3 linked regions of the Homo sapiens genome follow. The protein of the gene in region 2 interacts with the protein of the main gene of each other region in a biochemical or structural test. Each region holds a gene or a part of one and is shown on either strand. Other genes may lie near its edges.

Region 1 (3,649 bases), on a different chromosome or scaffold from region 2:
GGGCTCAGACCTCCAGCAAGTAAGGGCCAGAGAGGCTGCTGATACCCTACAGTGCCCAGGACAGTCTCACCGAGACCCCCAGCCCCTGGCCATGAACGATCCAGTCCAGAACGTCAGCAGTGCCCAGGCTGAGAAATCTCATCCTAAAGCATGGCCGGTGGAAGAGGAGACTGCTGGACACTTCTGTGGCCAAGCGTATTTAAAAAATGCTACACACTGTGAACTCCTTTCCAAGATTCGTAATGCATATAAGTACTTTAACAGCTGTAAGTCCTACAGAAAATGAAACCGCACAACTGTGTTTAACCTAGCCCCTCTGAACATCGGTGTATAGAACACTATGACTGTGGCTGGACCGAACACTTTTTGGCATCCCCCAAAGCCAGTGTTCTAATGGTAGAAACGGATACCAATGATACAGAGACCATGGGTCACCACTGTGCTAAGAATGGAAAAATAAAATCCTGTTGTTGAGATGAGCTCCAGCAGTCTGTCAACACATCAAGGGCAAATCCAGTGTAAGCACCAGCCACACAGGCAGAGACTCAAGCCTGCCACAAGTGACAACCTCTTCTCTCCTTAGGTTAGAGAAGGCCCCTGCCTCCAGCCACTGGAATGAGATTCTGGGGATATAAAATCGGAAGCCAGATAGTGCTGACCAGAAAGGACAGAGATTTAGGTTTATCAAGGTCATTTAACACAGAAGTAGCTGCTAGTTTGGGGGAAACTGTAGTGGGCACTATCCTAGCCACAGATCACCTCTCTTCAGCAGTGGCCTAACAAACTACAGCCTCACTTTCCTGAGTCTGTTCCTACATATGTGATTCACCAATTCTAAAGCACGTGTGTTGGTGTAAGCGTATGGCCACAAGTCCTCTCTGGGTGTCGGCAGAGCCTCTGTGAGGGCATAGTGTCTGCTTAGGGATCTTGAACGTCCTTGCTGCGCCAACACAAAACAACACGTGCTACAATGAAATGCAACCCAGAGAACACGAAGTGGCGGCTTCTGCTGCAGTGGTTACGTGGTGACTGGCCAGTCCTCAGAAAGTTGATGGGAAGGATATGAGCCTCTGTAACTTCCCAGAAAAAGAAGAATGAAACCTGCCAAGTGCATCTACTAGACAGACAGCGAAAATACCAGCTCCTTCATATACCACCACTATAAACCACTGTCGCAACAGAAAAGGCCCTGCTCACCCTTGCACCTCCTTCCCAAATCTGCTGTCACATTTTCTCAAAGAGAAGCAGGGAAACAAAAATTAAAAAGGTTCAACGATCACACACTGCTACTTACACCCTTACATCACTTTCTGTTTGCTGATGCATTTGGGCGGTGCCGTGCCACTGACACAAGATCTTAGTCTACACTACCCCACTAACCCACAAGCCCTACTTGAACCAATTTCACAGAATAAAACCATAGCAAGGAGGAGCAAGGTATTTTGCATGAAACGACAGAAGGCAATGACAGAGACTGACTTGTGCCACAGTAGTCTGTGTCCTTATGAGGTTGCTCTACAGTTTACACTTCTTTCCTTTTTTGAAATTAACATAGGATATGCTTGCAGTCACAACGAAACACAAACAGGAGCTGTACGTCCATATCTGAATATACAGCACTACACACACAGCACATACACAGATAGATACACGTAATATTTAACACAAAATTCAAAGCCAGTTTGAAATTATCCTCAGATCCACAATAAAATATAAATTTAAATTGTGTTTTACCTGATAGATAAAGCCACTCATCCTAGGACTGGCAGACAACATTAGCAAAACATTTGGGAAGAGTAGAAGATATCTTTCATTCTTTTCCTAATACAAAAAAAGAAATCCAAAACATTTCTTAAAAAACATCTACTTAACAAATGTGAGCACAAATACTTCACTTATTTATACTAGGCCCTATGAAACATTACATGATATTTCTCGTTTAGGTATTTCTATCAAGTTTTATCAGGTAAATTAAATGGAAACAATTATGATAAATTCTGTATTAAGTCTTAACATATGATTATGAGAGAGCTTTAACATATAGGTAAAGAGAAGGACTTCCAAATTCTTCAAAAAACAAAAGGTAAGAAAGTAAACGGACTGATTAAAAGATCCTGGACTCACAATTAGCCTGTGTAACATCTTGAAACTATATTTGGTTAAAGAGTTCAGCTCTGTGATTAACTATTTTCAGGTAAGCTAAAATTTTCTTTTTCTGGTTCAGAGAAAAAGGAGAGAACCTATAAATTTTAATGGGGTCAGGGGGAACAGGTGGAGTCTTTAAGCTAAAGAAAGGATAAAATGTTAAAATCAATTTTGGTCTACTAGTAATTCCTGGCACTTCCCAAACCTCCCAAATGTCGACTCAGTGTTGTTTTCATCCACCCCATAAACATCACCTGGTTTACATCAGACTTAAAAGTATTACTTATGTATTAAAAATCATTTGCTTCAGTAAGATAAAAGCCAAAGAGACCATAAGTGAAAGAAAAAAGTTCCTAAGAATCCAAAAAGAGACAAAAAAATGCCACAGTCCTTTTCACATGTTGACATTTAAACTACGGCCCAAAAAAGTGAAATCAGTCCTAGGAATTAGTTTCCCCAAGTATATTCCTCAGAACATTAGGCTTATGCAAAGCACCTTGAGAAAAGAGTCTTCCGTACTTTAAAGAAGTCACTGAGAACGACTTGCTATATTCCCCTCTTGAAGAATCACAACATACATTGGGAACATTCACAGCCAAGTCTCTGAGGAGCTCTATCATAAAGAATCTTTTCCACTAATTACGTTCAGTCGTGATCAGAACCACTCTGAAGCATTTTGGAGTAACACCCACCAGTGCTGTATAGATCTAATATTATAAAGAACACACTTTGGGAAATGTTTCCACAGATTAAAGTTTAAAAGAGCATGACTCAAAAAGAAACTTCTTCTGAAAAGATGTGAAGTTTTTATAATCATGGTTTCTTATGGTACCCAAACTACAAGACTATGTAGAAGGGGTGATATTTTACAGGTGGAAAGGAAAACACACTATATAAGTTTGAAGTTTTAGTTTTCTTATTCTCCTTGGAGTCTTGTGTTCAAAAATGAGTCATTTCGCATGTTTTGATCATGTTATTTTTGCAAAGGTAGAATAAAATTCAGAAAGAGGTGCCTGTTCAGTGACCCATTGAATGTATGTCAATGTGAATCATGAAACAAACTGCTCGATTTTCACTGTGTGGGTGGGTATGTCCCAAAAATCTGGGTTGATCTCTCACTTAAACCAAACCTGTAAGAAAACTGTGACTCCTGTAAGCATATGTCAGCTAGCATACTTTCACAGGAAAGTATAATGACCCGAAAGCATTGAGAGCAGCAGGTCCCTGTGAGAGTGAGCCTTGGTACAAAGTTGCTGGCCAGATAAGCGCATACAGCTCCATGCGGATGTGTGCACAGGACTCCTGCAAGTCTTTCTGCACACTATCTATCCTTCAGTTCACGTGGGCTTCGGGCCACACTGACTTCAGCTGGATCAAACTGATCAACAAGTCCACACTCAGCTCTAAGCCTCTCTAACATGCCATAAGCCTCTCTCCTGTGTCAAGAATAAAAAGTAGCTCACAAATTATAAGATAGAGCTTCTATTAGACATTTTTCATCGCT
Region 2 (3,649 bases):
GAAAGAAAGGCTCTCCATAATTCCTAGGTGTGGAGGGAATGGCAAAGGCCCAGTGCAAACCCCACCTTGCCTGTAAAGGTGGTCCCTTACCCACAGCCACCTTCCTCCTCTTACCTTACATTACCCTTCCATTAAAAAAGAGATGGAGCCAGAACTGGGACGTGGATTTCAAAGCCTATGCCCTTTCCACGGCTTTCCCAGGTTGTGGTCATGTACCACTCTTTATGCATGAAAGTATTTTTTAATTGACAGTGCCTTTGGGAGCAGGGGCTGTGCCAGCTAAGTCCTTAGGACCCTTTCATTGACTTACCCAAACGCTGTGTATGGAGGAGGTGCTTAATACTTACTGCCTGACTACTCTAAAAGAGGCTTACCTGAATCATGCACTGCTATTGAGACCATAAATTATACACCAGTAGGTGAGGTTTAACCAACCCGTACAAGTGAACAGCTTTAGGTTAACAGCTGCTTGCATAGCTCCAATGCCACAAGGTGTTACAATTCTGATTCAAGATGCAGGGACTTGTAAACCTTGGTTTGTCAGCACTTGTGGTGCTGACATAAAATGTGTCACAGGTTAAAAAAAAAAAAAAAGGCATGACATTTTAGTACTTCAGCGAGTCCACATACAGCAGTTTCAATCTGACAACTGTAGCCCTGAACAAATTGAACAAATTTGGCCTATTATAATATCTAACCAGCAGCCAGCTAATTTTCTCGTTGTTTAAAAAAACAGTTTGCTCAGAATAAATGCTGTAGGGTGATTTGCAAACTTTGTTAAATATGACGTGAACATGAGCAGTATGGGGTTAGAGAAAGGGAGGCGCCCTCGATGGGTGAGCGTGCATGTGGACGAGTGTGAGCCTGATGCACTGTGAGAAACCAGGAGGAAGTGCTGCCTCATGCAGGACGGAAGGGCAGTTAGCAGGGACAGGAGGGCCAGAGCCCAAGCACAAAGCGCCCAGGAGCACGGCCCCTCCTCCAGAGAGCAGACCATTCAGAATGTACTTAACCCTTCGGGCGCTTTCGTCCCTCGACCAGGAAAGTGTGGAGGGGAAGGAAGGCAGAGATGAAGAGGAGGTCACAAGTGCACTCCTCCCGATCTGGAATGGGAAAGAGAAACACACTCGGGAAAATACAAAACAAACCAAAAACCTACCACCTTGCCAGCTTCAGTAAAAGAATCCTGGAACACCACACATTATGTGACGTGAGTGCTGCAATCTCAGTGGCCACCAGTGACAGGACCCCAGAGATGCTTAAACCCTTGGTGAAACACCTCCTGGAAATTACTCTGAATTTAATAAGGCTGCTTTTCCATAAGGGAAATACCTAACATAATTTGTCAAACTTGTCAATAATTTTTTAATGGATACTATGAAATGCATATTTGTTTTTCAATCAGGACTGATGTGAAATGAGAAACTATAAAAATGATTCTAAGTTGCTATACACTATCAATCTAATTTTTAGTACAATTACAGTGCCTTCCTGATATATCTTTATATTCTAATTTTTTCTAAAATAAGAAAGTACACTGAAAAATAACAAAGTTGCTTTTCCTAAATTTTGTCTTCAGCTATACAAAAATAAGATTCTTAACTTAGGGTGGGCATGGTAGCTCACACCTGTAATCCTAGCACTTTGGGAGGCTGAGGCGGGCGGATTGCCTGAGCTCAGGAGTTTGAGACCAGCCTGGGCAACATGATGAAACCCCGTCTCTACTAAAACAAAAAAATTAGCCAGGCACAGGACCATGTGCCTGTAGTCCCAGCTACTCAGGAGGCTGAGGCAGGAGAACTGCTTGAACCCAGGAGGTAAAGGTTGCAGTGAGCTGAGATCACACCACTGCACTCCAGCCTGGGTGACAGAGCGAGACTCCATCTCAAAAAAAAAAGATTCTTAACTTAGTTCAGTGGCATTCCCATTACATCAAATGTATCAAATCAATTGCCTTAGAATGTTAAACCCAAATATCTTAAAAAGAATCTGAGATAACAGACTCCCAATTATAGTAAAACAATATTGTAATTTTACCACACTGAAAATTGACAAAATTAAACTAGGGTTTAATTCACGAAACCATGTCCTTGCTTTGCATCTACCTTGAGAATTTTTTTGGAAACTCCCATAAAATTTGACTGAAGAAATAATAAACTTTGACACTCAAAAAGACAAATACTACTCTCTGAAAAAGCATCCCATGAAAAAGTTTAAATGTAACATCTTGGCAAAACACATATTTTTATAATAAAGTAATCCAGAAGAAATATATTTGAAAACCTTATAACACAGTATGTATCCCAATGCAAAATAAGATTGTAAGAACCCTGCTGCAGAACACAATCTCTGGAATTCAGCGCTTCTAAGACTGATGTAGAGTATTACATTTCCTTTTCTGAGACAACAAAGCCACACTTCCCCCACCACGGTGGGAGGAGCAGGATGCAGAAGCGAACCTAGCAGGCACACTGAGCACACATGGAGAGGCTGCGGAAGCCTGGAGCCTTCCAGCCTTGCCTGGGTACCTGGGCCACAGACTCAAGGCCACCTGCTTGAGGAGGAGCTGAAAAGACGTCTTGGATTCTAAGGGCTCCAGTACTTAAAGGGGCACATCCCTGTCTAGCTCCAAGAAGGCAACACTTCCTTCTGAGAGTGAACTTTATGATTTATTTTTGTTTTTGGAAGTAGAGAAGGAAGGAAGCTTTACCAAAAAAAGTTCCAACACTGGCTGGTTGAGAAATAATCATGGATGTGGGGGAGAAAAAAGCAGCAGTTCGGGCAAGAGCCAGAATCCCCAACTTGGTTAGGAAACCATCAGCCCATGGCCCTGTGTGCTTGTGGGAATATCGCAAGCATCTGTGGACATGTTAATACAGCAAACACAATGGTAACTCTCTTAGTCCAATTTGGCAAAGCAGAGCTGTGGGGACCTGTAGGTTCAGAAGAGGGAACAGAGTAGACAGGCTGCATAGAGTGAACAGCAGAAGCGCCAGTGGTGTTACTTACGTGCGCGGGGAAGGGCTGGAGTCTCATCCTGCTCTCTTCGGGGCGGCTCGCTTCTCCCATTGGGAGATATGGTTTCTGACCTGATCCGGTCTCGTACATGGACATGGGCCTACTGCCCCGGGCAGACGGACGTCTCTTTAAGGAAGAGTGGTTGGAAGTGTCTGTGTACTCAGAACCAGTTTGCACCTGATATACATTGGTTGTGGCCTGTTTCCTGAGGTTCGAATTTTCACTCTGGAGTGTTTGAAGCTGAAAGAAATGTTTGGCAGTGGGACTGTGTTTTTTTACAGCAAGCAGAAAAAGCAAACACCAAGTAAATGAATACAACTACCAGTTTTAAACAATAAGGACAGTAACAGCTAGCCGGGCTGAAAGTAAAAAGCCAATACAAACAAGGACCCTTTCTTCTGGATTGGGTGAAACACAATCAACTCCCTTCATCACGTAAGCAAATTAAATAGCTTCATTTCTGAATGTGGAAAAGTTGTGGTTTGGACTTCCTCAAAACAAAATGTCTAACCACTTTAAAATTTGTCATGGTGGGGCTGGGAAATGTTTGCAGGCAAGCTGTACACTGGATTATTACTAAGGCTGTTTCAAGCAAGAGTTCGAGATCATTAAAACATCATTTAGGTAACTT
Region 3 (3,649 bases), about 10 Mb from region 2:
GAGGTCTCGCTCGCAGCCTGTGCTTCTGGAGCCAGTCCGATCTGCCCCCTCCCCTTGCCTCTACCCACCTCCACCGGTCCAATCTGCCCCCTCCCCGTGCCTCCACCCACCTCCGCTTGGTTCTTTGGTGGTTTTCTTTTGTGCTCCCTCTCCTGAGGCATCTGAGTGTGGCCTGAGCAGCGTTGTGCAAGCTGGGAGTGGGACGGTGACAGCCTCCCCTCCCCCTCCCCCTAGATCCGATCTGTGATCAGGAGGAGCTGGGAGTCTGGCCACGCACACCCCATGTCCCGGGAGCCCTCCCCTCGCCGCCGGCTGGACCCTGCCACCTTGAGCAGGACCCCATCCCAGGAACAGCTCATCGCGGAGCTGCAGGGGCGGCTGGGCATCCAGCCTGAGGCAGAGGAGCCGGCGGAGGCGGCGGGGCCCTCTGCCCAGGACTGGCTGACCGAGGGCGTCATCATCACTGTGCAGCCACGTGGGAAGCGGGCCGGGGGGCAGCTCGTAGAGAAGGTGGCGAGGAGATGCCCATGGCTGGGGCTGGGCCAGAGCCAAGCACCTGGGGTCCGGGTTCTTCCCTGGCCCCAGTGCTGGCCGGAGGGGAGATCTGGGGAGAGGGTGGGGGTTTCTTGCCTCCTGTGACTTTGGAAGACTGGCCCCACTCTTGGTGCAGAGTGGGAAGGCCCAGGGGGAGCCTGGGGAGGTCCCGCCACCCCTGTGGGCTGAGCTGGCGATTTCTTCCTCATCGCTCTCCCTCCTTTCTTCTCCCCAGGTTGTCTTCCCTCCTGGCTCTCCCATTCCCCTGAGAAGAACCATCTCTGTCCTGGCTTCTCCTTCTGTCCCTTTGCTCCAGCATCGCACAGACGCCGCGGCCAGCAGCTCTTCTCCCCTGCCCAGCCTGCTCGCCTCCTCCCCCCTGGGGCCCTCAGCTTATACCTGTGGTTCTTCTGGGGTCCAGAGTGCAGGGGAAGAGCCCCATGATGAGGGGGTGCAGGGCCCTGCCCTTCCCATTCCTGCACCCCACACCATGAGGTCCGTGGGCTGCCAGACTGATGAGGACCCGCTCTTCCCCCCGATGCAGGCAGGCCTTAAAGGAGCCCCTCCCTTTCTGTCCCCTGTCCTAATGCCTGAGCCATCCCCCACTCTGCACACACACACGTGCACACACACATACACAGATACCCTCCATCCCTCCATCTACAAGCCCCAGCACAGTAACCACAGTCCTGCCGTAAACCTTGACCCCGGTCTTCCCCCACTCAGAAGGTCCGCTGCCCTCTTGCTTTTCTGTGGGTCCACCCATGTCTGCTCCTTCCTCGACTGGTCCTCAGTACTGCCCCGGGCTCCCATCGAGGAAAGAAGCCACTCCAGAAGGGAGACCAGAAACCTGTCTCCTCCCTTCCAGCCCCCAGGCCCAGCGCCCGGTGAGGCCTCATCACTGAGCCCGGCCACCTCCCCTTGCCATTTCCTCTGCCTTTGGTCGACTCCCCTCCCTGTCCTTCTTCCTTTCTCCCTAGGCCTCTCTCTCAGGGCTCTTTTTCTCCAGATTTTTTCCCCCAATTTTGGTCCTGCCGGTGGGGGAGAAACCCTCAGATCTCATCCTAGATTCCCTTTTAGTCCAGTGACAAGGTCTTGTATTCTTTCTTAATTTTTAAAAAAGATTTCTTACCCTCATCTCTTCCCCTATCTAAGATCCAGGGCCTGGAGCAAAGAGCGGATGGGGAGCGGTGCTGGGCGGCCGGCTGGCCTCGGGACGGCGGGCGGAGCAGCCCCGGAGGGCAGGACGAGGGAGGGGTCAGTGCCAAGGCTGGGCTGGGTGTCCTGCGTGTCGTGCTCTCCCTGGGCTTGGCCATGCCTGCTGGGTGCCCTCAGCCTTTCCGACCCTGGTGGGCCCCTCCGACCACCAGGAGTCCTGCTGACGTCACTCCCACTTTAGGGCTCCTGGCCCCTGGAGGAGGTTGTACTTCTTGTCTCCATCAGCTCATCTGTCCAGGAGGGAGAAAAGTACCCCCATCCCTGTGCTGCCAGACACCGTACCCCGAGCCTCAGGAGTCCTGACCAGCCCCCTCCGTGTCCACAGTTCATGGCCCAGGGGAAGACAGGGAGCAGCTCACCCCCTGGGGGGCCCCCGAAGCCCGGGAGCCAGCTGGACAGCATGCTGGGGAGCCTGCAGTCTGACCTGAACAAGCTGGGGGTCGCCACAGTCGCCAAAGGAGTCTGCGGGGCCTGCAAGAAGCCCATCGCCGGGCAGGTGATGAGGGGGAGTGGGCAGGGGTGTGGCCAGTGGACTCCTGCAGGGGTGGGGGTGCTCCGGGGCTGGCCTTGGCCCTGGACCGCATTCCATCTCCTCCTCAGGTTGTGACCGCCATGGGGAAGACGTGGCACCCCGAGCACTTCGTCTGCACCCACTGCCAGGAGGAGATCGGATCCCGGAACTTCTTCGAGCGGGATGGACAGCCCTACTGTGAAAAGGACTACCACAACCTCTTCTCCCCGCGCTGCTACTACTGCAACGGCCCCATCCTGGATGTGAGTTCCTCATCCGGCACCGCGCCCGCTTCCGCTCATTCCAGCTTCACCGCAGCCCTCTGAGGATGCAGGGGGTGCCGTGGGAGGCTCAGAGAGGTCACATGCCCGAGGCTCACAGGGCTAGGGAACAGTGGGGCCGGATTCACAGCCACACCTGAACCACAGCCTGTCCCGATGTGCATCGGGCAGCCCCACCTCCCTTCACCTCCCATCTCGATTCCTTTCTGTGGAGACTCCCAGGACTCAGGAGCCCTGAGGAGATAAATGGAGTTGGATGCCAGCGGCCTCACTCTCCCTCTCTGTGAACTTAGGAAATGCCTGGCCTCTCTGAGCCTATGTTTCTTCACTTATAAAATGGGAGTCATAGAACTTGTGCCCTCTACTTGGGGTGAGGAGTAGAGGAGAGGGTATGTGTCTGGCTTGTCCCATCCTGAGTAACTCTGAATTCTTAGAGGCATTCACAGCACAATTAGGAGAGACCCCCATCTTGGGAGTGTTTTGCTCTGTCTATGGCTATGAGCTGCGGGTGGAAGGACGGCCTTGCTGGGCGTCTCAGTTGTGAGATCTGCCCAGAGCTCAGCCTTGATCCCACATTTTGCTTTCACAGAAAGTGGTGACAGCCCTTGACCGGACGTGGCACCCTGAACACTTCTTCTGTGCACAGTGTGGAGCCTTCTTTGGTCCCGAAGGTACGGGCTGGACCGGCGGACTGACCCACCGCCTCTTAGGAGGGCCGGGGAGGTGGGGGTGGGAGACGCTGCTGAGGTTGGAGTCAGAGTGGCTCCACTTCTGGAAGCCGGAATGAACTGTGCCTCCAAAACCCCCGCTCCCCAGGGTTCCACGAGAAGGACGGCAAGGCCTACTGTCGCAAGGACTACTTCGACATGTTCGCACCCAAGTGTGGCGGCTGCGCCCGGGCCATCCTGGAGAACTATATCTCAGCCCTCAACACGCTGTGGCATCCTGAGTGCTTTGTGTGCCGGGTAAGGAGCCCCTGACCACATCTGGAGGGGCGAGGAGCAGGCAGTGGGGAGAGAGGGGTCTTCCTCATTGTGCTGTCTGGATCCAACTCAGAGGCCTCATTTGGGGTTATTAATTGGGGGAGCAGGCAGGGGATCTCCTT

The links.
Region 1: the proteins of GIT2 (region 2) and ARHGEF7 form a complex in vitro, tested with the Homo sapiens proteins (one study listed by BioGRID).
Region 3: the proteins of GIT2 (region 2) and PXN form a complex in vitro, tested with the Homo sapiens proteins (one study listed by BioGRID).

What each region holds. Positions count from the first base shown.
Region 1 is NC_000013.11:111,275,759-111,279,407, reverse strand, and holds part of ARHGEF7 (rho guanine nucleotide exchange factor 7), read right to left. Parts: intron 1,822-3,649; coding exon 1,735-1,821; intron 1-1,734. UniProt on the Homo sapiens protein: Acts as a RAC1 guanine nucleotide exchange factor (GEF) and can induce membrane ruffling. Functions in cell migration, attachment and cell spreading. Promotes targeting of RAC1 to focal adhesions. May function as a positive regulator of apoptosis.
Region 2 is NC_000012.12:109,944,247-109,947,895, forward strand, and holds part of GIT2 (ARF GTPase-activating protein GIT2), read right to left. Parts: exon of another isoform or gene 3,259-3,649; coding exon 3,010-3,258; intron 1,104-3,009; coding exon 1,014-1,103; intron 1-1,013. UniProt on the Homo sapiens protein: GTPase-activating protein for ADP ribosylation factor family members, including ARF1.
Region 3 is NC_000012.12:120,213,702-120,217,350, reverse strand, and holds part of PXN (paxillin), read left to right. Parts: intron 1-234; coding exon 235-510; intron 511-769; coding exon 770-1,078; coding exon of another isoform or gene 1,079-1,421; intron 1,422-1,689; coding exon 1,690-1,791; intron 1,792-1,933; coding exon of another isoform or gene 1,934-2,077; coding exon 2,078-2,248; intron 2,249-2,352; coding exon 2,353-2,526; intron 2,527-3,133; coding exon 3,134-3,215; intron 3,216-3,360; coding exon 3,361-3,509; intron 3,510-3,649. UniProt on the Homo sapiens protein: Cytoskeletal protein involved in actin-membrane attachment at sites of cell adhesion to the extracellular matrix (focal adhesion). Recruits other proteins such as TRIM15 to focal adhesion.